Linked DNA regions of Homo sapiens. The protein of the gene in region 2 interacts with the protein of the main gene of each other region in a pairwise test. Each region holds a gene or a part of one and is shown on either strand. Other genes may lie near its edges.

Evidence for each region.
Region 1: the proteins of FHL2 (region 2) and A1CF interact in binary tests that used the Homo sapiens proteins (3 or more experiments, as listed by UniProt).
Region 3: the proteins of FHL2 (region 2) and CCDC92 interact in binary tests that used the Homo sapiens proteins (3 or more experiments, as listed by UniProt).
Region 4: the proteins of FHL2 (region 2) and DEAF1 interact in binary tests that used the Homo sapiens proteins (3 or more experiments, as listed by UniProt).

What each region holds. Positions count from the first base shown.
Region 1 is NC_000010.11:50,812,609-50,819,635, reverse strand, and holds part of A1CF (APOBEC1 complementation factor), read left to right. Parts: intron 1-3,356; coding exon 3,357-3,630; intron 3,631-5,573; coding exon of another isoform or gene 5,574-5,597; coding exon 5,598-5,779; intron 5,780-7,027. UniProt on the Homo sapiens protein: Essential component of the apolipoprotein B mRNA editing enzyme complex which is responsible for the postranscriptional editing of a CAA codon for Gln to a UAA codon for stop in APOB mRNA.
Region 2 is NC_000002.12:105,389,048-105,396,074, forward strand, and holds part of FHL2 (four and a half LIM domains protein 2), read right to left. Parts: intron 1,181-7,027; exon of another isoform or gene 1,060-1,180; intron 1-1,059. UniProt on the Homo sapiens protein: May function as a molecular transmitter linking various signaling pathways to transcriptional regulation. Negatively regulates the transcriptional repressor E4F1 and may function in cell growth.
Region 3 is NC_000012.12:123,969,816-123,976,804, reverse strand, and holds the start of CCDC92 (coiled-coil domain-containing protein 92), read left to right. Parts: upstream 1-3,973; 5' UTR 3,974-4,276; exon of another isoform or gene 4,277-5,065; intron 5,066-5,385; exon of another isoform or gene 5,386-6,989.
Region 4 is NC_000011.10:678,199-685,225, forward strand, and holds part of DEAF1 (deformed epidermal autoregulatory factor 1 homolog), read right to left. Parts: intron 6,766-7,027; coding exon 6,700-6,765; intron 2,892-6,699; coding exon 2,765-2,891; intron 1,619-2,764; coding exon 1,490-1,618; intron 625-1,489; coding exon 496-624; intron 1-495. UniProt on the Homo sapiens protein: Transcription factor that binds to sequence with multiple copies of 5'-TTC[CG]G-3' present in its own promoter and that of the HNRPA2B1 gene. Down-regulates transcription of these genes.

The DNA.
Region 1 (7,027 bases), on a different chromosome or scaffold from region 2:
CCTATCGGATCTGGCATCGGTCAGGGTCCCAAAAGAAAACAAATAGCAAAGGAATTAATTACAAAAGTGCGAGTGGGGACTAGGGAAATCAAAAAAGAGTGTCAGAATTTGGGGCTCACAGCATTCTGGAGTCAAAGGTACAAGGGGCTGGAGAATTAATAGAAATCCTGAAAGGGGAGAGAATTGTGTAGAGCAGATCTCTTTGCAAGAAGTTGCTGGGTGCAGTGGCTCGCACCTGTAATCTCAGCACTTTGGGAGGCTGAGGTAGAAGGATTGCTTGAGCCCAGGAGTGCAAGACCAGCCTGGACAAGATGGCAAGACCTCATCTCTACAAAAAATTAGCCGAGCATGGTAGCATGGACTACTACAGTAGTCCCAGCTACTCCGGGGGCTGAGGTGGGAGGATCTCTTGATCCCAGGAGGCTGAGGCTGCAGTGATCTATGATTGTGCCTTTGCACTCCAGCCTGGGCAACAGAGTGAGACCCCACCATTAAGGAAAGAAAGAAAAGAGAAAAGAAAGAAGCAGTGATTTTGGTCAAAGGACACAGTCAGCCCAAGGTGACCTCTCAAAGACGGGTCCAGCAGAATAAATGCCCCGAATTCACTGTTGTCTCTTCTCCAACCTCCTACCAGTGTTCCCCATTGGCTAAATGCAATCACAATCTAGAAGGCTAAAGAGGACCCCATGTAGAACAGCTTCCCAGAGCAGAGAGCAGGCTGGAGCTGGTAGGTGGTGAATTCCATAGGCAGTGGATCCAGATGGCAAAGGGAGGATCTCTTAGCCTAGGCCCTTCAGACACTGTGGAGCCTCTTGCATATTAGCTCCTCAGGGGCCCACTCAAACTCAAAAAGTTTGAATACTGGAGGGTGGGGTGGAGAAAGTATTCACTCTGAAATACAAAAAAGAAAACTGCAAAGAAAAACTAATGCATAAATACATGTCTATAAAGAAAAGCATTATTTCATCTTCATTGATGATCACATTTAGTATCATAAAAGTGTTATTACTTGGAAAACAATTTGTAAGTTAGATTTTCTCTATATGGAAACATTCCTGAGTATACATGATGATTGCTGGGAAGGAACAGCCATCACAAATTAAATGCCAAAAATTACGTTGGAATAATTACAATTGAAACATATTCAAATTCCCAATTTTTGCAGCTAGATATTTTTAGAGTAATTATTTACACATATTATTTAGTTAAATATATATTTAATATTATATTTGACTATAATGTGGTATGGAAAAATCAAAAGTAAGTTTTCCTAGGAACTATGAAGGTTTTTGAGCATATATAGAGATATTTATATTTAATTTGTTAGATGAAGTGAGATCTTGAAATTTTTTCTACGATAATTATCACATTTACAATTTAGGAAAATTAGCCTAGTAAGAACTGACTTTTTAATACAGGTGAGAGAAACATGTCATAGAAACTAGTTATAAAGCTATTATAGTCAACCAAATGGGACAAAATAAAGTCTTGAACTTAGGTAGGAATGGAATGTAGGAGACAGCCATATGCAGAACAGTAAGGGATAAATTCAAAGGACGCAGGAACTGATTGGAGATGGGGTGAAAAAGAAGGACAAGTCATTATAAGCTTCCAATATGGTAGGTTGTTATGAAAGTCAGGAAGGGAAGCCTATTCAGAGAGAAAAATGATGAATTGAGCTTCAGAATGATTATTCATTTATTCTTTTTGTAAGTCTATGAAGTGAAAGAAATTTTACTAAGCTTGGGCTATACAGATTAATAAGATATTGTCCTAGCTCTGGAAATATCTAAACCAAATAACTAAAATACAATATTGAATTTAAAATGCTTTTGGATGGGACAAAGGAAGGCAGAACAAAATTTGTTACAAGATATCTGAATTTGCCGCAAAGAATCATTCCATGCAAAACATCTCTTGATATGGAAGTGCCTATAAGCAGAGACCTATTTGGGTCTCTCATCTTCCTCAAGACTGGACTGAAGATATAAAGAATCTTATACCCAAGTTCCTCCCCTATTTTCAGTATGCCAGGTCTACTTTTTCTAATTACATCAACATCAATATAAGATTGTTGAATATCAGCTGGATTCTGTCTGTCTCTCAGAGTATTCCATCTAACTTATTTGACACTGGCTCCTGCTACTAAAAAGTAAGGTAAATACATAATACTGGGGACAAATTGACCAAGAGGCTGAACAAAATGGTCAGGATGACCATGAAGCACAAGCTTTGTCCAGCAGACTTCAATAATCCAGGAACCACTGAGTCACTGTTGAAATCAGAGGGTAAGGGTGCACACTCAGCTGCTGTGAATGGGAATTTCTGTAGAAACACTTTACATAAAAGTGTTCTTTATATAAAACAGAGGATCTTCACATTCTTATTCAAAAACAAAGCCACAAATGCTTTCAGACAATACTTTGTTCCTTTGATAATAAATACATCAATCTATCAAGAATTTCTTGAGAGCCATCATTGTTTATTGTGTAGGCAAGCAATACATAGAAGTTAGTAGCACACGTAGATCTACATACATCCATTATCTTTGACATCTGGAGCTGTTTGCAGTCTCAGAATTTGTGTCAGAATTCTTAAGGACAGGTTTTAAGCAGTGCATGATCTGAGAACCTCAATACTACTCTCACTCCCAACTACTCCTGACCCCTGTCATCCCTGTTTATTAGCTCCCAACTGTTCAGCAGATCAAAAGGTGGCTTCACAAGGAAGAACCTGTGGCAGGCAATGCAACAGCCTCCCAGATTCCTCTTCCTTTGGTAGAGCCACAGTATGTCTCTCTTCTCCAGTGAAAACTTACTTGTGTGGCTGCTCTAAGGAGCAAGACAGTTAGCGGGCTATCAGCTGGAAGGGCCTGATTTGGCTGCCCATGCTAAATGCTAATAATTGATAAGATTTCTTTATTGGTTTCCTTTCACCTTCATCTTATTGTGCAAGGTAATGGAGATTTTATACCATCCATAACAAACCTAAATTGTCTTGTAGTTATATAATTATATAAATATGTAATTTAAAACACATATATGACCTAATAAAAATATTACATAACTTTCTGTCTCAGTGACTGTAACCAGATTGTAAATTTATAATGAATATGTCAATGGACACTGGCCAATATGTCACTGTCAAACCTGTTGGCATCTTATGCAACTTACCAACAAAATGGCTCAGAAAAAGTTCAACTGGCATACAAAACAAACCTATAAAATGACAAGATACAATCAATAAACCTACAGCAAATAGTCTAACACTTAGAAGGAGTCATGTTATTAGGGCTCAGCCACACTTGGTTATCTTCATATCATCTCGCGTTGATATTTCTTTGCTCTCTACAACAGGTGCTGGATGGTTCCCCCATTGAAGTCACCCTAGCAAAACCAGTGGACAAGGACAGTTATGTTAGGTATACCCGAGGCACAGGTGGAAGGGGCACCATGCTGCAAGGAGAGTATACCTACTCTTTGGGCCAAGTTTATGATCCCACCACAACCTACCTTGGAGCTCCTGTCTTCTATGCCCCCCAGACCTATGCAGCAATTCCCAGTCTTCATTTCCCAGCCACCAAAGGACATCTCAGCAACAGAGCCATTATCCGAGCCCCTTCTGTTAGAGGTAACACCAGTCAGATCTTGCTTTAGAGTAATCCCAAGATTTCAAATGACTCAAATTGCAGTAGCCTTAGATACATTGGATGGGTCCACTTGGAGAAAAGCACTGAAAAATTGTTTATTAAAAATCAACTATTATATCAATAGTTTTCCTTTAATAGGAATCTTTTTCACATTACAACTGGTTATTGAAAAAACGTCATCAGAACATTGTGCAAATGAGCCTAGTGCACAGATTCAAACTTTGCATGGGCCCATAAAATTTGCACAAACTAAAACCTAGTTCTATAATTGTTAGCTTCTTCTATATCACTTGTCCACCACTGTGTAGTCATCTGTGGCTCATTACAACACTTCTGGAATAGACTAGTATAGTCCAGTGGAAACCAATTACCTCAAATAGCAAAACCCTTTCAAGGCATGTGTGTATTTGATGGTGACTCAGTGGCATTGTCTTAATATGTAAATCACAAATTATTATAAATATAATCTAACAGACATATGAGATGTTCTCATCTGACCTCCTCCAGGAAATATGTTATACTTTCTTAGAAGCCAAATAATTAAGGACATTACTATATTTCTTTAATACATGGAGAACTGAACAACAAATAGAAAAAAAACCCTCAATCAGACTGCTAATAAAACAATAAATATTTCACATTTGAATCCTGTAAGAATTCTAAATGTTTGAGCAGTTTTCCAAGCTCCATTTCTTCAAGAAAGCTAGAAGATAAAGAAAGCCTTTATTCTATTTCCAAGAAACTAGCTTGTCCCTGTCTTTTTGGCTCCTTCAGATGAGTTTTTCTAGGATGTGGCTAATGCCAACTGAATCCCAGTTCTATCCTCCAAATACGACATGAATCTGGGCAATTCGATAAACTGTGCATTTAAGTCTATTCTTGGGTTTGACTTAGAAGCAAAAAGGCACATCTAGATTACTGTGGAAACAATTATCTTACTATGTTTTACTACTTTTCAGTATAACTAAATTGATCATATTAGGAGCTCTAGTCTTCAACAGCCTTAAAAGTTTCATACTCATAATTACTTGCCCCAAAATTGTAATGCAAATGAAATAATCAAGATTTCCTTTAAGGTAACTTGTCTATGTGATAATAAATTATATCATTGCAACATTATGCATTTAGAATATAAAATCACCTCATTAACCAATCCATACATTAAATACAAATTGTCAACCAGTTATGATGTCGAAAAAAAACAAACTCCACTATAAGGGAAAAAATGCCTATCTTATAACAAGAAAGGAATCAATGAATGATATTCATGGATGAAGGGTAATCAATTTAATTTTTTATCTCTATGCCACCAATATAAAATCAAAGTAGTAACATGGCAAAACAAAAATCAAAAGGAATCTATGCATGAAACTCAATGGAAATTTAAGCCTCACATTGACCGAACATCAGAGAGCATGGTGAACCTAAAAGCATGCTTTCTAAATGTTTGTTTTACAATAAGTCATTGGAAGTGGGATAATTAGGGAAGCCAGAATTTATTTCTGATATACTGATCAGTGACAGTCTCTATGCAAGACTGATTTCAAAATAAGTGGTCGCATTATGTTGGAATGTTCTAATAAATACATTCCCAGTCTTTATTAGTCTGTATAAAATATCAAGGTTACCTAAAGACAAAAATTGCAAATTTTCTATCCCAAAATTTTTAAGTTGTTTGTGTACTTATCAATAGTATTGTATTTATCAATGGCATTGTTTTCTTCTGAAGGTAGTTTTTCAAAAAAGAGAGACACCTATGTTAAACCTTACCTTATGTTGAGTTTCATTACATTAGAATCCTAGAGTCTCCCACCCATCTTCAGGGCAATAATCAACGTGAATTGGGCTAACTTTTCCATTACAGTAAGATTCAGGGTGATTTTCTGGTGGTTTGATTCAGTTTAATGCCTTCTTACGTTCCTAGAAATTTACATGAATGTACCTGTAGGGGCTGCGGGAGTGAGAGGACTGGGCGGCCGTGGCTATTTGGCATACACAGGCCTGGGTCGAGGATACCAGGTCAAAGGAGACAAAAGAGAAGACAAACTCTATGACATTTTACCTGGGATGGAGCTCACCCCAATGAATCCTGTCACATTAAAACCCCAAGGAATTAAACTCGCTCCCCAGGTAGGTAATGTTATTCCAGAAATAGTTTCTTTAAGTTGTGCCAATGAGCATCATTCACTTTTATCAAATGATTTGACTTGATCCCTACTCAAGCTATGGGTTTTTTTCTTTTAATATATAAAGCATCCAATGAATGTCACAGTCTTTGAAGGAATGCTGGGCATCTGGTGCCATTATTCTATTATAGGTCCTTTCTCTTTTTTAAAAAATCATAAAGTCTAACACCTTGAACAATATTCCACTGAAATGCAAAGAATCTGAGAGCTATTAAGAATTATCAACCCATACCCGAAATGAGGCAAAGACCCCATCTCAGAATAAATGCCTATTGTATGTGAGCCAGGTTGGCTGGCAAATGAAGAGTATTATGGCAGTGCCCTGAATAGACCATTTAGGACATCTTTTCTTGGAAATACTGTATCTAAGAGAAAACTCCACCATGATATCTGGGTGAATTATTAACTATGAGATGTCATCAGTCATACCAAATTAACTCTTCCTCCATAGTTATATTTTGGCAGTGGCATTACAGAGAGTTTTTACTGTGTTCATTTAACAGTTCTAAGTTTCCACACTTCAACATTAACCTGTGGTTTTTATTATTGGAAAATTAAAAGCTATAAAAGTTTCAATATGGAAACTGACTCCCGGGGTTAAAAATAAAACAAAACAGAGTCTATGCTAACCCTGAGACTGTTCCCTGTGGGAGTGTGATAGGTGCTGATCTCTCTGAAATACATTTTGGCTGAATAATCAGAGTTACAGTTTGTGTATCTTGAAGGAAACTTCCCTATTCCCATGACAAAGGTGGGCTTATAGCCTCACATTTATGGAAGTAGCCCTTATAATTTCAATCCAGAAGAAAACTGGTTTTCTAAAAGCTCATCTTGGGTAATTTTTTAATGGGATTTCTGGCTTTCTTTTATGCACAAATTAGCTTATCTAAGGTTTCTGCTAGCCCCACCCAGGGAATTTTAAAAAAAATGCCTATCAGACTGCTAAACAGCAATCATTTGTTCACATAAGATTTAGTAAACTTCTCTTATGCACCATGTAGTGCGCTAGGTGCTGGAGATGTAGAAGTGAATATAACAAAATCCTTATCATGAAAAATTAGATGGCAATCCAGTGGGAAAAAACTGACACGTAAACATATAATGAAATCTGGAAGTGATATGATGAAGTTTGTTCAGAAAATATAAAAGCCACTCATCCAGTTTCTCTTAGGTTAAAACCCAAAACAAAAAA
Region 2 (7,027 bases):
GAAAAGATCATCTTTCAAGAATTCATTCTTGGATATTTCTGTGTTTACAGAATAATTCTCTTCCAAGAGCAATAAATATGCAGCTGGACACATGCGGCAAGATCCGTCCTTCTAAATCACTCTTCCTGGAGTTAAAGAAAACATTGTCTGGACATTCTTGTGATAACATCACAAGATGAGGCTCTTGAGCACTTGAATTATTATTCTGAAGCCCAACGTATAAATATCCTTTGTACCGCAGCCATCTCGAGTTGGAGCAGCCATGCTGGCACAAGATTCAATGCTTTCCTGTAATTGTTCAGTTATTGGCCTTGAAAGTTGCTGTCATTTATTTCATCACAATTGAGAGCTGTTTTTCCAACATATATGTTTTTCCAATAAAGGGTGTGATTTAGCTGTGGGACAAGAGGCTCACTGCCCATTCCATGCCCACAAACATAAGAATAATAATTTGGGAATTTGAAATAAGAACGATGAAAGGACAGAGAACTATAAATTGCGGAATTGTAAAAGCTGGAAACAAATCCCCAGATTATCTATGACAACTTCCTCATTCTATGGATGGAAAAACTGAAGCCCACGCATATTTATGAAAAAGAGGGTCCACTGAGCTTTCTCAAATAGCCGTCTGACTTACAGAAAATGAACTCCCAGTCTAACTTGAAAGGCCGTCTGTGTGGGTCAGGACAAGCACCAGCCCTGCTAGGGAAGGGAGACAGTCTACAGCCTCTGTTAATGTCTGCAGAGCTCCATTTATGTTGGCAGCTGGTGAAAGGGGTACACCTGTTTTCCTCTGAGGTAATAATCGTGATCACGGTGCTCATATACCTGATATGTGTTTTCCACTTCCTCTGATTCTACAGGACCAGGACAGAAAAAAACAAAAACAAAAAAAATCTGGCCAGGTGCGGTGGCTCACGCCTGTAATCCCAGCACTTTGGGAGGCTGAGGCGGGTGAAACACGAGGTCAGGAGATTGAGACCATCCTGGCTAACACGGTGAAACCCCATCTCTACTAAAAATACAAAAAAAAAATTATCCGGGTGTGGTGGCGGGCACCTGTAGTCCCAGCTACTTGGGAGGCTGGGGCAGGAGAATGGCGTGAACCAAGAGGTAGAGCTTGCAGTGAGCTGAGATCGTGCCACTGCACTCCAGCCTGGGCGACAAAGCGAGACTCCGTCTAAAAAAATAAAAAAATAAATCTAAGAGAATAAACTCTGAAAATAAGTAGGGCTCCACATTTGCTCAAAGTACGACTGAGGTTATGAATGTCATCATGGTGAATGTCATCATCAGTGATATGATGAATATCATTATCAGTGATACCAGCTCCCAGCAGGAACAGTAGCAGCTGCTATCTGCTCAGTGGGTCCACCTGGGAGGAGGCACTTGGCCCTGTGGTTCAGCTCCTAATTCTACAGAATTCTTTCTGAGAGTGGTGGATCCCTCTTCTACCTTGTTCCTCATCTTCTAAGAGGACACTAGAGTTCTACAAAGAGCAGAGAGCATTTCTACTCCAACCAACAGGGCAGAGCATAAAATGAGCAACTGCTGCTACCTAGGAGCACAGCAGGATGCACTGTGTGAAAGCAGGCCCCTGAAGGAGTTCCACACAGTTACATACTGCACAAGCCCTGAGCATCAGAATAAAAAGTCCATGAGCTAATAAGCAAGCTCAGAGCTTCCCTTCTATTACAACATGTTTAAAAGTATACCTATTGTCCTGTATTAGAAATCTCCTATAACTTGCATTTTTTTTTTTTTTTTGAGACAGAGTCTTGCTGTGTCACCCAGGCTGGAGTGCAGTGGCATGATCTCAGCTCACTGCAGCCTCCACCTCCCGGGTTTCAGTGATTCTCCTGCCTCAGCCTCCTGGGTTGCTGGGATTACGGGCACACGCCACCACACTCAGCTAATTTGTGTGTGTGTGTATGTGTGTGTGTGTATGTGTATTTTTTTTTTTTTAGTAGAGACGGAGTTTCACCATGTTGGCCAGACTGGTCTCAAACTCCTGACCTCAGGTGATCCGCCTGCCTTGGCCTCCTAAAGTGCTAGGATTACAGTCATGAGCCACTTGCATTTTTTACATCCCATAAATACCTGATTGCTCATTCATTCACTGAATAAACATTGGTTGAGCTGGAACTATGTGTCTAAAGTCATGAAAAGTGCAGAAGATACAAAGATGAATAAAATGCAGGCCCCTCCCCTCAAGGGACTTGTTATCTAGTGAGGAAAAGAGATATATACCAAACAGACTACCAAGCCCCTTACTCAGTGCGTGCTGGAGGTGCACAGGTATGATGGGCACGCAGAGGAGGAGCCCCTGAGAGAGCAGGCAGGCATCCCAGAGGAGATGCTATCTGTGCTAGGAACAGGTCAGCCAGGTGATATGGCAGGTCAGGTCAAGGGGTGGAGTAGGCAAAGCCAGAGACATGAGAGACAGAGTAGGGTAGGCAGAGAGCCCAGGAAGATGGAAGACCCAGTCAACAGCCAAGGCAATGAGGGCCTGGATGCCTTGTTCATGGACTTGGGTATGCCTCGCAGGCAGTGGAGAAACGGACAGCCCAGTGAAAGTTTACTGCATGGAAGCCTGCCTTTACTATGCAAGACAGGGGGCAATGACTCCTAAAAAATGTATCAGGGTATCAGAGCCCATTTCTGAATGATTTCTTCAAATAAAAGTAGGACATCTTGGTTCTACAAGGACTTATTAACCTAATTGTGTACAATCCATTTACTCTCTGTGAACTCCACATCCCTCCTGACAGGTTATCAATAATTCCTGCTCCTTAGCTGGTACACAGGAATGCTGAAAGCATCAGGCAACAGCCTGCAGGGAGATGCCCAAACATAAGGCGCAACCCCTCCTTTTTATTTCACTGAATCAAATTCCAAATCACAGTTTCCTGGAGTTCTTATTCCTCACCAAGCTAAATCATTCCATGATGTCATTACCCCTTCGGCCCTGAATAGGGTATTTGAAAAAGCTGGATCTTAGGGTACAGGCTTGACTCCAGGCCAAGGGAACTGCAATGGGTGAGGCAGGTGCCAGGTGCAGCTCGGAGGTCTGGGGATGGCCCAGGGAAGGCTTTGATCTCTGAGTCTCTCGCTAGCCCAGCTTTGACTCAGATGTAAGAATAGGTCGGGTACAGAGGCTCATGCCTGTAGTCCCAGTACTTTGGGAGACCGAGGCAGACATATCGTTTGAGCCCTGTAGTTCAAGACCAGCCTGGGCAACATGGAGAAACCCCATCTCTACAAAAAACACAAAAAATTTGCCGGGTGTGGTGGCATGCATTTGTAGTCCCTACTACTCAGGAGGCTGAGGTGGGAGGATCTTGAGCCCAGGAGGTCGAGGCTGCAGTGAGCCATGATAGCATCACTGCTCTCCAGCCTCAAGGAAACAGCCTCATGGTGACACAGACCATGTCTCCAAAGAAAAAAAAGAAAAAGAAATAAAAAGGATGTAAGAATAAAGGTTCAGAGGGCCAGGGAGCAACAATGCACTCTACTACTCACAATTCATACTAATTTTAAAAGTTCACAAGCTCATCAGTGTGATCTATTTTTAAATTTTCAGATTCAAAAACTGTAAAACAAAGTATGAGTGGGGAAAGTATCAAAGCTGGAGGAAAATAAAGGGAAAAGGAAACAGAAAGAGTAAAGAGAAGGGGAGAAGGGTGGTGACAGGACAAAAAAAGGAAGGAGGAGGGTAAATGAAATGAGGCAGAAGAGAGGCAAGGACCCTGCATGCCAGGAAGCTTTTTTTTTTTTTTTTTTTTTTTTCTTGAGACAGTGTCACTCTATCACCCAGGCTGGAGTGCACTGGCCCTATCTTGGCTCACTTCAGCCTCCACATCCTAGGTTCAAGCAATTCTCCTGTCTCAGCCTCCCAAGTAGCTGGTATTACAGGCGTGCATCACCGCACCCAGCTAATTTTTTTTTTTTTTTTAACCAGAAAGATTTCGATCAAAGGAGGGGCTGCCATGACAGACAGCCTCCCTTGGCTTGCTGGCTCAGGCCTTGGAGTTCCAGGAGCCTGGCAGATCCCTACAGGTAAAGCCTGAAGAGGTCAGATTAGCAAAAGAAGTCTATTTAAGCATCCTTTTCAATGCACCTTTTATTGACTACCTACTTTGATCTGACCCCAATGGGCCCATTTTCTCCTCCCCCTTTGAAACCCCAAGTGCTTCTCCCTATCAACCCTGCTGCAGGAGGCTCCTCTAACATAGCCATTTCCTAAGGAGAAATCTGTGAACGTCCCCAAGCCCTTCCTGCATGCAGCCCTTCAACACATGCAAAAGCAGCTTCGGTAAGTCAGTCCCTGTATCTTTAGATGTCACCGGGGATCCGCAAGGGATATTCAATTACTTATCAATAATCAACCAGAGCTTTCCAGAGACAATTAGGAAAACTGGTCTATGTGGGCTCTTTTAAAAAATACATTATAAAAGTGCAGTGTTTTCATGCAATTGCCCCGTCTTCTACCAACCGTAAGCATTGGGAAGGGTGCCCACTACCTGTCGCTGAGACCTCACCAGCAGGGAACACACACAGGACCAGGGGCTTTGTGAATACTTGTGGAATGGATGAACAAATGAATTGACGGGTGGATGAATACAAACATGTCAGAGTACAAACATACAGGCAAAAATCAAGCATGAAAAATTAGAAACATATTATGTGAACAATCCACTCTGCATAGCAAACCCAACATGTAATGTGGTTTGGCATATGACATCATGAGCTTCCATCGCTGCCCTCGTCCCTCCTTCCAGATAAGCTGCTGCTTCCGCAGCGGATATAACTCTTCTTATTGTGTTTGGACTCCAATCCCATGTGAACACACAGCTGCACAGTCCAGGATGCAGCCTGGCCAGGTCAAGAAGCAAAAAGCCAGCTGGGAGTCGTGCCCACTTTGGGAAGAACGCACAGATCCCCAACACGGGCTCCAGGTGTCAGCAGAAGGCCCTGATGTTCTACAGACATGTGATGCCTATAATCAAAGATCCTCCATTCAAAGGCACGGGACTCTCACACCTGGAAATGTGCTCAGAGAATACCCCGCACCATTTTATTTTCCTACGGATGGGAGTATCTACACACAAAAACCGCTCACCCCCAACACTCTTCATTTGTCTAGCTAAACGGGTTGTTTTAAACAGAAATTCTGATAAAACGGAGAGGGCCATCATGTCAAGGAAAGTTGCTGTTTTATAAACTAGAATAATGGATCAAGCCTTGGAGTCCCTAAAGAGAGAGGATCTCTTGAGCCCAAGAGTTCGAGGCTGCAGTGAGCTGTAGTGCTGCCACTATACTCCAGCCTGGACCACAGTGTAAGACCCGGTCTCTAAAAAAAAAAAAAAATTTATATCAGTTGGATATGGTGATGTGTGCCTACAGTCCTAGCTACCTGGGAGACTGAGGCAGGAGGACTGCTTGAGCCCAGGGGTTTGAGGCTTTAGTGAGCTATGATGGCACCTGTGAAAAGCTACTGCACTCCAGCCTGAGCAACAGAATGAGACCCTGGGAAAAAAAAAAGAAAAGAAGGAAAGAAAGAAAGAAAGAGAAAAAAGAAAGAAAGAAAAAAAGTATCTAGCATCCACTTGAAATCTATTTTTAAATTGTTGGATTTTAAACAATCTTAGTTTGTAAGGTATAAAATTGACTATGCTTACCACTGTATAATATATTTACAGATTAATTTAATAAGCCTTTACTAAATGCATGTACAGACAGGTGTCAGAGGTGTATTATAGTTTACATAAACTGGTAACTTCCAACTTAAAAAAAATAAATAAACATCTTCATCTCTGGTGGTTCTGCATGAGGCAATGTTTGAATAAGGTAAACTGCTGTCTTCTGAATTATCTTTTGAATATTGAATACTAAAAATAAAGGGAAAACAATAAATATCAAATTTCTGATCTGAAGTCCATGACTACAAGAGGAGTTACACTTGTTTTGATGTCGTTCAGCCTTTTGAACCCAGCCGACAAGAATGTGTTGAGTAACCACTGTTTTCCATGTGCTACGTGAGGCACTGGGAAGCTGAGATAAAACACACAGTCTATGAAGGAGTTCCAGTCTAGTTCTAGCTCCAAATAATTTAAATCACCTTTAAGATCCCATCTTGTCATTTAATCTCAAAACACATCAATTGCAGCCATGCAGGACAACCATAGCTGCACACGCTAGAATGGCGGGTGGCCTCGGGTCCGTCAATCACACCAGTGTGGGGACCAAGGGAGACTCCATCCTGCATGCTATGGCTCTACCATGCCTTCCCTGAGTGAGTTACGAACACTTCTACACCTACAAAACGAAAACCACCCACTCTTCTTCATGGCAGGGGTCTCCTCTCACCTCCCAAGTGCGGCTCACTGTTCACTCTCCCAGCTATCTGAGGTGCCTATGACCCCCACCCCCATGCTGGCCTTTCTCTTGGCATCCAGCAGCTTCCATGAATGACTGGCCACCTCCTTCTCACTGCAGTCCTGCCACTCTGTGGGGTTTCTCTGGCGCACTGCAACAGGACTCTGTCCCGAGAGGCTTGCACAGTTCCTTCTGCTTCCTTCATTGACTGCCTGCTTCTTAGTGACTCCAAAAGTTGTATTAACCCAAGCAGACAGGTCTATTTCCTTGTTGACTGACAAGCTCCATATTTACATACTGCAAGGACATTCTGGCATTAATTCTGTTCACCCATGAAAACAGGGCAGCTGCTTCTGCCACAGACATCCCACATCTCACTCAAGACCATATGACGGGAGGATCTTGAAGCCGCAGACAGAATCAGGCTAGTAAAGGCGTGGGCCACCGAAGGCTGAGGATGAGTGTGAAGTCTAAGTTCACACCAGGCAAGACACCACCCACGAGCACTGGGATGGACCTGGGAGACCAGACGCTGCTCCAGACCCCTCGTGACATCCCCATGCAGAGAGCATGTTTTACAGCAAGAGGAAAGCCAAGACTCCCAGGAGCAAAGTAGTGATCAAATCTTAAAAAAAGGGAGAATGACAGT
Region 3 (6,989 bases), on a different chromosome or scaffold from region 2:
AGGATCTTTTTTTTTTTTAATCAAACATTGATTTGACCTTAGTGTAGCTGGTAACGTGAGGTCAATGTGAATTCCAAGGGAAAGCTCACGTCTCTTCCAGGCAGCCCTCTGAGATGGCCAACCTGGTCTCCCCACTTCTACTCTCCACCCCCAACACGCCCCCACATCTTGCATGCAACGACTAGAGTGGCTGTTTAAAGATACAAATCTGATTATGTCACTCCTCTTCGTAAATCCCAACCCATATCATGGTTTCCCATTTCACTCGGGATAAAATACAACCACTTTAACCTGCCCTACATGACCCTACTTGATCTGGCCCCTGGCCTAGCCACTCTTCCCCTTCACCTCCATAGTCTATCCACATTCATTCTTTCAGTTCCTGGAATGGGCAAAGCTTTTTCCCCACTTTGAGGCCTTCCCACATGCTGTTCCTCTGCCTGGAAAATTATCCCCCACTTTCCTCCACACTAACACCTACGCACTCTTCAAATCTCAGCTTAAATCTTATTTATACAGAAAAGTCTTTCCTAGGCCCCTTCTCTCCACTCTAAAATTTGGTCTCCCCTTTTTTATACTCCCTCATAGCAGGTGCTTCTTAACTTTCACAGCAGATACCAGTTTGTGATCATACGTGTAGTTGTGATTGTGTTTAAATTCCAATCCCCCTCACAAATCATAAGCTTCAAGAGAACAAAATAAGTTGATTTTGCTGGCCACACTACAGGCACTCATATATATCTGAAAGAAAGAAAAATACATAAAAAGCCCCTAATCGTATCTCATACATCTTAAAATGTTACCCATCACATCATTCAATCATTATTCAAATGATTAAAATATTAAATCTCAATATTAAAACTCTGATGCAGCCTGCAAATTTAGTAACAATCCCTTTTCCCTGAAGGACATAAAAGCTAATCTGAATCTGCTGCTGCCACAGAAAAATACATGTACAACTTACAACTCTAAGGAAATAAGCTTAAATATTATAGTGCGAGTATTGTCTAGTGTTCAGTTTGCTAATATGTTTATTCACAGTCAACTAATTTATATGCCTTATTTTTTAAGGTATGTAAAACCACTAGGGGCTGGGCACAGTGGCTCACACCTGTAATCCCAACACTTTGGGAGGACTGCTTTAGGCCAGGAGTTTGAGACCAGTTGGGGCAAGATAGTAAGAGCCTGTCATTACAAAAATAAAATAAATCAGCCAGGTGTGGTGGCACATGGTTGTAGTCATTCCTAACTACTGGGGAGGCTGAGGCACAAGGATCACTTGAGCCCAGGAGTCCCAGGCTGCAGTGAACTAGAATCATGCCACTACACTCCAGCCACGGCAACAGAAAGAGACCCTATCTCTCTCTCTTTTTTTTTTTTTTTAATGAAGAGGAAGAAAAGAAAGCCCTAGGAAAAAATGCTTTGCAAAATATTGTTAAGAAGACTAATGTATTGTCAGTACTTGATAAAAATTAATTTAAAAAGTCACAAATTAAAAAGCATTCAAAGTTGACTATCTGTAGTGCTCTGTGATATGATACACACACATCTGGTCAAAAAATATAAATGATATTGCAAATAATTTTTGGATCACAAAGGCTAATAAAACCAACCTTTATATATACTACTTTACATTCCACAACACATACGCACTGTATCACTGAACTCTATGGAGCAGACAGAGCAGGCCATTTACAGAAAAGAAAACCGAGGTTTGGTGTGATTCAATGTCCTCCCCAAGGTCACACAACTTCTAACTGCTAGAGTCAGAACTACCATAGGGGAGGGGTGGCTGCTTCCACATATCAATTTCTTAACCAAAAGAGAACTTCATCATAAATGCCGAATCTCGATAATTAGCGTAGATCTGTGCTCCTATCACCGAAATTTCATCTCATCAGAGAACCACCACCAGCAAAAAAGCTGTTTTAAAGTTAAAACTTAAACTGCTATCAATTTGGGAAATGGCTAAACCATGATATACTGAAACTATGGAACATGGTGCAGCAGTTGTTAAAAAATGACTTGAAGCATTACATGCTAACATTGAAAGTTACGGTGCAACAGTCCTTGTTAAAGCAGTCAAAAATGATGTTAAGTGCACACACGTAAAAGTACTCCAAAAGATCTAGAAGGATAAACACCACACACATAATAGTCGGCATCCCTGAAGACAGAGGTTGATAGTCAAAGACAAAATGCCATCTCTGTGATATGCTGTTTTTACAAAGAAAATGTACTACTCTGCTAATTTAGAATTAATTTTTAAATTTTTAATTAACCTGCGGGTTGAACAAGGTCAATTTCCTGCTCTAAAAAACTATGCGTCTATGAAGGAAATAGGAGCCCTCTCTAAATAAGAAGCCAAAATGCCTAAAAACCGTTCCAGCCTGTGAAAACAATAAACTGTAAATATCAGAAAACGTTCCTTGAAGAAGGCAATAGCTCAGAAATCTTTTTTCGGTATCTGGTCTCCTTTGTTGCAATAAGACAGCCCGTAAGCAATCTAGCAACCAGAACAGTTCAGTTCGGAGCAGGCTCCCGGGGAGATTTAGTTGTTAGAGTTCGGCAAGAAAGGTTTCACAAAGGAGCTGAGTTCTGGGGGAAATGAGAGGTGATGTGGCGGAGAGATGGATCCGGACGGGAAAATGTCTGGGAGGGGGTATACGGAGTTCATGAGAAGCCGGGGACAGTGAGAAAACTGCAGTCGAGTCCTGGAAGGGGTGAGAACGCCTGCGGAGGCGGGAGTCAGAGGGAAGTGGACAGCGCCGGCAGCCGGTTTACCTGGGTGAGAATCCGGCCCTTGTTGTGGTCAAACAATGGAGGCGTCCGGCGGCAGCAGCCTTCTGCGCTGGGTGCGCGAGGGGTTCCTCATCACCTGAGCGGGATGCTCGCCTCCTCTGCCGGACGCAGGGCGCCCTGAAAAACACACAGCACCCCATGCAGCCGGCTCCTCCGCAGCCGCCCGGCTCCCCGGTCCCCTGGCGCGGCCATGACCGCCTCTCCCGGGACCCGCCTGGAAGGGCTCCAAGACGCGGCTCCACGGGCGACGAGGGCGGCAGCGCTCCCCCTTCCCTCGGCTCCAACAACAATGGAGCCTGGCTCGGGAGTCCGGCTCCCGAGGGGCCTCGCCCGGCCTCGCCCTGCCCGCTGCCCAGCCCTCGCTCGCACCGGCCGCCATCTGCGCCCCCCGGCCCCGCTCCCCCGCACTGCGGGCCCGCGGCCGACCGCCCGAGGCCCGAGGGGCGGCTTCTCAGCCCGGGACCCGCCAGGCTGCGCGGAGCCGCTCTGACCTTCCCCGCCATCCCGAGGCCCATCCTCCGGGATGGGTTGTTTTTCTTTTCTTTAAGCCACTCCACCTCCTTCCCACCCCCAGCCCGCTCCCTGGCCCCCGGCCCCCGCCTCCCTCCGGGAAAGAAAGAAAGACTGCAGCCCGGCCGCCGAGAACTCACTCCAAGTGAGGGGAGTCAGCGCCCCAGGCCGCGGGCGCCGCGCACCCACCTCCCTCTCCTCAGGGACACCTCACAGGTGCGCCTCCGAGCCGCGCGCGCGCGCGCTCCGCACACCCAGACGCCTCCGGGGGACAGCGCGCGTGCGCACGCACGAGGCCGGGGAAGCCCCGGGGGAGCGGGGGCCGCACGCATGCGCGGCCACCCGGCCCGCGCCCCCACCGCCCGCCTCCGCCCCCGCCCCCCAGCCCCGGCCCGGTCGGGCCCGGCCATCCCCCACCCCAGCGCCCGGCGCGCGCGCTCCCGCTCGCCTCCCTCGCTCCTCCCCGCGCCCCCCCCTCCCTCGGGCCGCGTTACCCAGGGCAACCGCAGTGCGGCCGCACCTGAGCTGTGCGCCTGCGTCCCGCGGGCCCGACCCTCCCTTCCCCTCGGCCTTCGCCCCTGCCCCGCCACAGCCGGGCGGAAGGGGGCGTAGCCCCGCCTCGCCAAGTGAATATCGGCCCGCCGCCCCCGCCCAGCCCGGCAGACACAGGCCCGCCGCCGCGCCGGCGCCTAGCCCGCCGGGTCAGCGCGGCCAGGCCTCGCCGCCGGCCCCGCTCCCAGGGTGCACCGCGGCTAGCGCTGGGGTGGGAGCGGGCGAGATGCGCCGGGCGGGCGGTGCCCACTGACCTCCCTCGGCGGCCCGGCCCGGGCAGCGCCCGAGCCCAGGCAGCCCCGCCCGCCGCGCCCCGCCCAGCCCATGGGCCACGGGCCCCCACCGCCGCCCGCCGGGAGGACCGAGCCTAAGAGGGCAGCCGCCTGAAGGAACGCGACGGCGGCGCCCGCAGGTGAGGCGGGGCCCGGGGTGTGTCGAGTCCGGCCCCGCTCACCTGGCAGCGCCGGCGGGGGCGGAGGGGCCGGGCAGGGGCGGAGGGGCCGGGCAGGGACGGGAGTTCGTGGCGAAGACTTTAAAAACCCTCCCCGCCGGGAGACGGGGGACGGGGTCCTCCTGCCCCACCTCCGGGGCTTGGGAGCCACGTTAGCTCCCCCAGGGGCAGGGGTGGCCCCGGGCGAAGGCAACTCGGGAGACGGCGGAGTCGGGGAAAGAGGGTCCCTGAGGCTCGGCGACCCCCGCGCCCGCCCCCGCGGGGTCTGCCGGCCCTTTCTGGGGAGGGGGCTCCCCGGCCCGGGCTCCAGTCCAGGGTGCGGACCGGCCGCGGCGCGCGCCCACCCCAGTGCCAAGGGGGAGGAGAGGCCGGTCCCGGGGCGCTCCTGTCTGCCCCGGGGTGGGATCGCAGGGCGAGGGATCCGCATTGCAGGTGCACCAGGAGCGCCCCGGGGCCTAGCCCGGCTTTGTCTGGGATGCTGTGGGGAGGAGGCCGTCTGAATCCACATCGCCTTTTTAAATGCTTGTTACCACCCGGGGAACCTTAGAGACCCTCCCTGACAAGTTGTATCGCCTCCCGTCCTGGTAGCCTTTCCGTAAGTACACTACCTTGCCAGCCCCTTCCTGAAGCTTTGATGCGGCTTTAGTTTACTCTGAGTAACGATTTGCCTGTGATTCGTGAAACGGAGCAGAATGCACAAACGCAGCAGAGCTCCAGGCTTGGCTACTGGGCTGCCGTCTGCTACGGCGAGTGAGTTTCTCTAACTTAGGTTTTCATGCTGACCTGTATTGTTTCATTTCAAGTTTTGGTATTTAGCAGTACGATCTAGTCCACTAAGGAAAATTAGGCTGCCAGAGAGAAAATATAACCGCGCTCTGTAGCTTAGGTTGCAGTAGTCGGTTTTATAACAAAATGCAAGCTACCACGCTGTAATACTTTAACATATTACGCAGTTCCAGAAACCTGTAAGAGTATTAAAACTAGGATTGCCATTTTAAAACTTTTACGTTTGAAATTTATTTAAAGAGCATTGGTATTGATAAAACGACTTTTCTTTTTTTTTTTTTTTGCTCATCAAGAATTCCCATGCATTTTCTCGCTATTGCATTGTAAGGAAAAAGATGCTAACGTTTAAAGTGGCTTTTACCTCCAAAGATGTTTTGAAATGTATGTAATTCTTTTGGCTAACTGTTCATCTTATGTGAAATATGCTTGGAAGAAGGCTTTAAAACTCGTGATTATATATACGGGTATGCGTACATATCCATACACACCACTGAAAAATCTTAAAATAGTTTTGTTACTCCTCTGCGTATTATAATTACTCAGTAAATTTAGTTTAGGTACATTTAAGATCTAAAGTACAGGACAATTATTTGTGTGAGATTTTTACTGTGACACATTTTAAATACATCGGTCTAACAAATAGGGTTTTTTTGAAATTAGATATTTTTATTAACTCTTTAAAAAACGAATCATTCATCTTGGGTTTATAACTCTTTCATCTGCCATGTTGGATAAATTGCAAAATTGGATAAATTGATCTCAACTTATCCAATTATCTTTGGATAAATTGATCTCAACATAATTACCTAATTGGTAGGATGCCTTTGCAACGATACTAACGTTAATAAAATGTTGATGCTTTTAAAAAATACTTATGTTAAAAAAGCATTTTCTCGTATTTCTGGCAAGAAAAGTCATGGAACTTTTTTCCTTCTATCTGGAACAAGGTCAGCCATAAATAGTTTCTAATACATAGTGGGCACACATTTGGTAACTAAGATTAATTATATCTACTGAATTTACTGAATTCCATGTCCTTCAAGGGCAGTGACTAGGTGACTTTGTATCTTCACACACCAATGTTGCAGTAAATGTTTGAGTCAGATTGAAGTTTCATCCCGGCTAGGTAGGTGCTAACTTAATGACACCAGTTTCCACATCTTCAGCTTTGATGTTTCAACCTGCAGAAGGATTTGGGCACGGAAGTGGCTGTGTCCTAATTGTCTTCAAATATTTGAAGGTCTGTCATGCAGCAAGGGATTTCATTTATTTTGAGTAATTATTGAGTACAGAAAAACAGATTTCACTTCTATATGAAGGCAAAAGTTGTTTATGGTGAGAACTAGCGGTGGAAAGAAGGGGCTGCTCCTTCCCTAGGGGCTTTTGGGATCAGCTGGTTCCCCACTTGGCGTGAATGGCTATTAGGAGGTATCACAGAGGTATAGGAGGGTCTTTCTGAGAGGGACTCCTGGGTATTCCGATGGCAACTATATTCGAGGACTTCTGTACTTCCCTTTTAGCACTGTGGCTTTTGTTTTTTGTTTTCTTATGCTGGCTTCTAGAGTTGTGGACGTAGCAACATCCGCAGACACCTACATGAACCCTAGGAAGATTTTTTAGTAGATTAAAGACCCACCTGCTATCGAAGATGATTCTTAGTCGTGCTTTGCATTTGTATGGCACATTACAGGGAATAAAGCACTCTCGAATTCAATGTGTTTTAAAAGACTCTTTTTAATTATACATGATTTGTATTTCTTTCTTTAACTTTATTTTCTACAATAAACATTGAATCAAGAGGAAAATTACCCTTTTCTAGGAAGGCAAGCAGAAAAGACTTTTTTTAAAGCTGTTTTTAAAAAATGGGATGGTGCCAGTCATCCTTTGG
Region 4 (7,027 bases), on a different chromosome or scaffold from region 2:
ACTCAGTCTCAAAAAAATAGAAGTGCAGTTAAACGAAAAATCAAAGTTAGAATGCATTTACAGTGTATCGTCATTTTAAAGATTTAGGCCACATTTAGGCCTTGGTTTTTCTTTCTTTCACCAGATACCGAATGTCTATGCCAGCTCTGGAGAGACCAAGACCTGCCACTGGGGAGTGTCTACCCTCAAGAGGACAACAGCAAACTCACCAGAAAGAACTTCAGGCTTCACAGGCCAACTGGTTTCTAGGGGCGTGCCCTGCTGCTGTACCAAAAGCAACTTCCACAGCACACACATGAATGGACGTGGCTGTGTGTCAGTAAAACTTTATTTACAAACATAGGCAGTGGGCCACACTTTACCAGCCACTGATCTAATGCATCAACAAAAACAACAAACCAAACCAAAATGAATCCCATTTCACTTAGGAATTCTTTCATTGGAAGCAATTCTGAGGACAATAACCTGTACATGTGTGAATTCTTTCAAACCTACCTATTTTGGGATGTGACGTTGGCAACGCAGCTTCTGGAAACGGTGCGATCTGGCAGCTGTCCTGATAGCCGGGGTAGTGAGGCTCAGGGTGGCTGGCCCTGCATGGGGGCTGCACGCTGGCCTCTTGGACTGTTGGGGAGAAAAAGGACAGGGAGGCTCGGGATGGTTGTCCGCACAGCAGACTCTAAATATCACGCTGTATGGCTGCGCCATTCAGTACACATAGTAGCTTATGGCCACACGTGGCTACTGAGCCCCTGAAATGTGGTGATCCTGAATCGTTGACATAATAGGATTGGGGCTATATCAGGTGAAATAAAATAGATTATAAAAATCAGGCCGGGCGCGGTGGCTCACGCCTGTAATCCCAGCACTTTGGGAGGCCAAGATGGGCGCATCACGAGGTCAGGAGATAGAGACCATCCTGGCTAACATGGTGAAACGCTGTCTCTACTAAAAATACCAAAAAAAAATTAGCCGGGCATGGTGGCAGGCGCTGTAGTCCCAGCTACTTGGGAGGCTGAGGCAGGAGAACGGTGTGAACCCGGGAGGCGGAGCTTGCAATGAGCCGAGATCATGCCACTGCCCTCCAGCCTGGGGGATGGAGCGAGACTCCACCTCAAAAAAAAAAAAAAATCAGTTCTAACTCTATTTTCCTCAGTGTGGCTTCTAGAATATTCTCCAGCACACAACCAGCTAGGCTGCATTTCTGTTGCACAACTGCAGTCAAAAGCAGGAGCCGGCAGACAGAGAGTATTTTCAGCTTTGCCAGTTCTGGCATCTGTCACAAGTAACCCACTGCCACACGCCAACCCCATCCACACTGCACCGCCCACCTGACGTGGCTCACACGCTGTCCCCACCAACAAACGCCTGGTTCAAGGCCCCTCTCGAGGCACCCAGCAGCCTATGCAGCCCAATGTGGCGTCGGGGATGTGATGTCACAGACAGGGATATGCTGAGGACGCGTCAGGCAGGCACTGGAGCAGCTCACCTGTGGCCCCTGCGAAGACGTCGCCCTGGGCCGGACTCTCTGATATGACAGCAGTGGCCTCTACCGTGGACGCTCGGTCAAAGGTCAGTGCCCCCGAGGTCGTGATCTGTCCCGAGGGGGTCACGGTGACTGGAAAGGCAGAAGCACATTTCACGCGGCCAGGCAGTGGCGCCCACGGCACACAGGTCCCGTGCCACCCACGGGCGCCAATCCTTGTGGGGGCCTGGGCTGAAGGGCGGGCAGTGGTAACTGTACCCTCCCATGTGAAGGACACGGGGGAAATCCCAGACCTTGGAGAAGACCTCACAGGAGAAAACCAGGATGGCCAGGATGGCAACTTGCCACTACCAATTGTTCGCTGTTTAAACTGTGAACCATGGAAATGTGCTGCCCAGCCAGAAAACAAACATAAAATAAAACTTTCAGTGATTTTTAAGTACTTCGTGGTTCGAATTAAGAAAAAATCTTTAATCCAAGCTGAAGGTAAAAAGCAGCCGTGTCCCACAGCAAGGCTGCCCTGTGTCCCACAGCAAGGCTGCCTCTCCAGCTCAAAAAAAAATCCTGGCGACAGATCTTGAGACTCTGCTGCTGTGGGACTCTTCCTGCACCCACCACCCAGGGCCTCAGGAAGGAGCTGACAGGGTGTTTTAGAAAGACCTTACTCTATAAATGCAAAAACCCAGACTTAGTTAACAAAAGCCTATTACAAAGACATTTTCTCCTATTGCTACCTCTCCCCATTTAAATCCTGTCTGTACAAAAAAATAAAAACATTAGCTGGGCATGGTGGCACGTGCCTGTGGTCCCAGCTACTTGGGAGGCTGAGGTGAGAGCAGTGCCTGAGCCTGGGAGGCCGAGGCTGCAGCGAGCCGGGATCCTGACGCCGCCCTCCAGCCCGGCCACAGAGAAAGACCCACAGAGCTCTCCGCAGCCCTCGTCCAGCGCACTGAGAATCCCTCACCAAGGACGCCCTTGTCAGGAAACGTCCCCTGAGCGTGTGCTGGGCACTCAGCCATGCTCACTCATACTAGGAAACAGCCCAGGACAAGGCCAACAGTGTCCGGGTCCCAGGGAAGCAAGACCGAGCTGGGCACTGGGACACCCCTTCCCACCCGGGGGACGCACTGCAAAGGAGTGTGATGGCGTTGGAATCCCTCTGGCCACGCAATGTGCTTTAGAAGTGAGAATCCCGCAGTGGCCGTGGGAGTGGTGACGAGAGAAGGCAATGCACTCAGGTCCCCTCAGTAAACTAGAGCTGTGTTTTCTCAAACTCACAGGTGGTAGCCGCGGTGGCTGGAAGCAATGTGATGTTCTTGGGGGAGTCCTTCTTCACGGGAGTTGTGGGCAGTTCATTCTCCTTCTTGCGCCTTTTGTAAGGCACAAAAAGCCTGACTGGGCCACTCTGGGGGAGAAAGGAGAGAGGCCACCACCTTCATGTGTGCAAAAGCTATGCTGCGCTTGCAACTCCTCCTTAAGTGGGGGCACCGCGGGGTGTGTGAGTCACATGGTGAGACCACATTAAGATGGTAAGCGCCCCTAAAGATCCCACCTCTTTTTCTTTTTTGAGACGGAGTTTCACTCTAGCTGCCCACGCTGGAGTGCAGTGGCGCCATCTTGGCTTACTGCAACCTCCGCCTCCCAGGTTCAAGTGATTCTGCGTTAGTCTCCTGAGTAGCTGGGATTACAGGCATGTGTCACCACACCCGGCTAATTTTCTTTCTTTCTTTTTTTTTTTTTTTTTGAGACAGAGTCTCGCTCTGTTGCCCAGGCTGGAGTGCAGTGGCACAATCTGGGCTCACTGCAAGCTCTGCCTCCCGGGTTCATGCCATTCTCCTGCCTCAACCTCCCGAGTAGCTGGGACTACAGGCGCCCGCCACCAAGCCTGGCTAGTGTTTTGTATTTTTAGTAGAGACGGGGTTTCACCATGGTAGCCAGGATGGTCTCGTTCTCCTGACCTCGTGATCTGCCCACCTCGGCCTCCCAAAGTGCTAGGATTACAGGCGTGAGCCACCACGCCCGGCCGACTTTTTTTTTTAAATAATTTATATCTCTTCATTGACATTCTCCAGTGAGGAGACAGTGTCTTCAGACCTTCCATGCAATCTCTAGCTGTGGTTTCCTTCAGTCCTCTGAACATACTGAGGATAGCCATTTTAAAGCTTTTTCCTGTTAACCCCAACATCCGGACCTCTCCAGGCAATTTCTGTTGCCTGCTTTCTTCCTGTGTATGGTCCAAGGCTCCTTGCATGTCTTATCATCTTTTGTTAAGAATCAGACACCGCAGGTGATACATTGTAGCAACAGTGGAAAGCAGTTCTCCTTTCTCTGGGATCCTTGCTGCTGTCAGCTTGTTTATTACTCAGGTACGGAGCTGGACTATCTTACTGAGCCTGTTCTCCTGGGGCGGCCTCGGCTGCTGCTCCTCTGAGGGCTCGGCCCTGGGTGGGGTGCAATCACCTTTGGTGGTGGGAGTTTTGGCTGTCGCTCTTCCTGATCTCTGTTAAGCTGTTGGTGTAGTCAAGTGTCAGAATCAACTAACTGCCAGCTGCCTGCTCCATTACTTTCAACAATGCCCTGGGGCACACACTGCTCCACTGTCTGAGCCAATTAAATTAGGGCTTCTTTACTGAGAGGTTCGATCTTGAAGGTCGGTTTCCCAGATGGGTTCTTCGCTGTGGCTTTCCTCGCCTCTCTGGTAAACCTGCTGACCTACAGTTTAGTTTCTTGCTCTAATGGAACTGCTGGCCTCCTCTTAACTGCTTACCATCAAAATGTCCATTCTTTTCCAGGGCACTTTTAGGCTTGAACATCCCCATACTGTTTCAAATCAAGTCAGTTCCTTTGGGAGGGGCTTTGGAGCTCTCTGTTCTTACGGCCTCTCTCTCTTTTGGGCTGAATGTCTGAGCCCCTACTATAGACCTAGAGGCAGGAACAGTGCCTGAGTCTATCAGAGGGAATTCTGTTGCATTAGCCGGGTTCTGTGTGGGGGGCAGCAGCCTCTCACTGCATGGACACCCCACCCTATGGGCAATGTGGGTTGATGGAAATTGGGGCTCCGTATGCTTGGCCTCCCATGCCTGGGTAAAGCCTCTGCCCTCTGAGTGGGGATGACTGAAGAGATTTTCAGTCACACTTCCCAGGAATTTACTGCAACTTAGAGCTGAAGGGGTTGAGAAATGCTGGTGGCCTGCCCCTCCCAGTGAGATACCATATCCCTTGACCGGGAACTGCAAGGAGTGGGAACCGTTTTCTTGGTCACAACCACCCACAATGGAGCCTCCACCATAGGGAGCTGGGGGCAGAAAGGGAGGGAAGGAGCTGGTCGTAGCTCAAACGTCACAATCCTCACTGCCCTTTCCAAGACTTACTACATTTTCTTGGATGTTTATTTGCTGTACTCCCCTAGGACAATTTCTGGAGACCTTAAGGGGTTATTTTTTCACAATTTTCACTAGTTATTTCTCTGGAGAGTTGGTCCACTGAGCTCATCACACCACCACTCCCCAAGCGGAAGCCAAAAGTTCTAAAATTTGATGAAGTCCAATCCAAGAAATCCTAGTTCTAACTCCAGGTCAGGAAGATTTTCCAATGTGTTTTCTCCTAAAAATGTTATAGTTTCACCTTTCACTTTAGATCGATGACCCATTTTGAATTCATTTTTGTACCAAGTGTGAAGTTTAGGTCATCCTTTGTCTCTGCTGATGAACGTCCTGTCACTCCAAGGCCATTTGCTGGAGTCTACTATGACACTCTAGTCTGACCCAGATCGTGGGGTCTCTCCCTCTGCCAGTGCCACACTATCTTGATTACTGTCACGAGCCCGTAAGTCTTAAGACCCCGCAATGTGATTCCACCCATTTTAAACTTTTATTTCAAAACTGTTTTGGCTTTTTTGTTTCAAAACTGTTTTGGCTTTTTTATTTCCTTTACCTTTCTATGCAAATTTTAGAATCAGCTTGTCTGCATCTAAAAAGAATCCTGCTGGGATTTTGATAGTCATTGTGTTAAACCTACGAATCAACTTGGGAAAAAGTCGCATCTTTACTGAGTCTTCTAATCCACGGGCGCAGGACGTCTTTTGACGTATTTCAATCTTCCCTGGTCTCTCTCTTCAGCATTTTCTTTAGTATCTTCCACGTACAAACCCTGTACATGATTTCCTAGACTGACATCTAAGTACTTCAGTGTTGGAGCCCCTGCAAATGATCTACCTGCAGGCTCAACTGCCAATGGGACCGACGTCTCCTCCCGGCTCCTTTACTCCTGCAGCGTCTCTAAGAGTCTCACCGACTGGCTTTTCCCAATCAACTTCAAAATTATTTTACGTTCACAAAATTGTTTTTTCCACTAGAATCACATGAAATCTATATATCAACTACACAATTCTAGGATGTTTAGTGTTTCACCCCAAGAACACGGTAGGTCTCTCCATGCTCTTTTTTTTTTTTTTTGAGGTGCAGTGGCTCACGCCTGTAATCTCAACACTTTGGGAGGCTGAGGCGGGCGGATCACATGTGGTCAGGAGTTTGAGACCAGCCTGACCAACATGGCAAAACCCCATCTCTACTAAAAATACAAAAATTAGCTGGGCATTGTGGCACATGCCTGTAATCCCAGCTACGCGGGAAGCTGAGGCAGGAGAAGTGCTTGAATCCAGGAGGCGGAGGTTGCAGTGAGCCGAGACCGCGCCACTGCACCCCAGTGTGGGCGACAGAATGAGACTTCGTCTCAGAAAAAAAAAAAGAAAGAAAAATTATTTTGGGTCTTTGTGAAGCAGTTAAGAATTTAGAATAAGGAAATACGTCAAAAAGGCGTTAAAAGCTCTACACATGAATAAGTTTACAGTAGCATTTTTCTGACATGTTACAAAATGAGGAATATAAAATGGCATGCATACAAGGAAAAGCGTGTATGTTTAGTTTTAGAGTTAAGGCGGTGACATTATAACCGCTTTTCATTATTTAAGGTTTCCACAAATGTTCTTTGAGCAACATCTTGGGGGCCAACCACGTGTTCCCCATCGAGACATCAGGATTCACTGTGACGTATCAGGGAGGAGGGAACAGAGCAACCCAGGAGAAGTGAGGACAGTGTCTCTCTCCAAGGCAGAGGGCAGGAGGGAAACAGCCGAGAGGCCAAGGGCTGTGGGACCCACTCAGCCGCCCCCAGCCCCACCAAGTCATCCTGTTCCAGACACGCTGGCCACTTACTAAGGTCATGTCGTCGCAGCAGGCAGCACAGGTGCAAGAGGCAGCGTGAGGGTTTAAGATCCCATCCTGAGATGTGAAAAGAACCACCATGCATTAGCAAGTCAGCCCCTAAATGTCAATCATTCAATAATAGAAGATTTCAACCACTTTTACCACTTACCTACCATTCATAAATATAAAAATTCTTTTTTTTTTTTTTTTTTTTGAGACAGAGTCTTGTTGGGTTGCCCAGGCTGGAGTGCAGTGGCACGTTCTCGGCTCAGTGCAACCTCTGCCTCCCCGGCGCAAGCAATTCTCATGCCTCGGCCTCCCAAGAAGCTGGGATTAT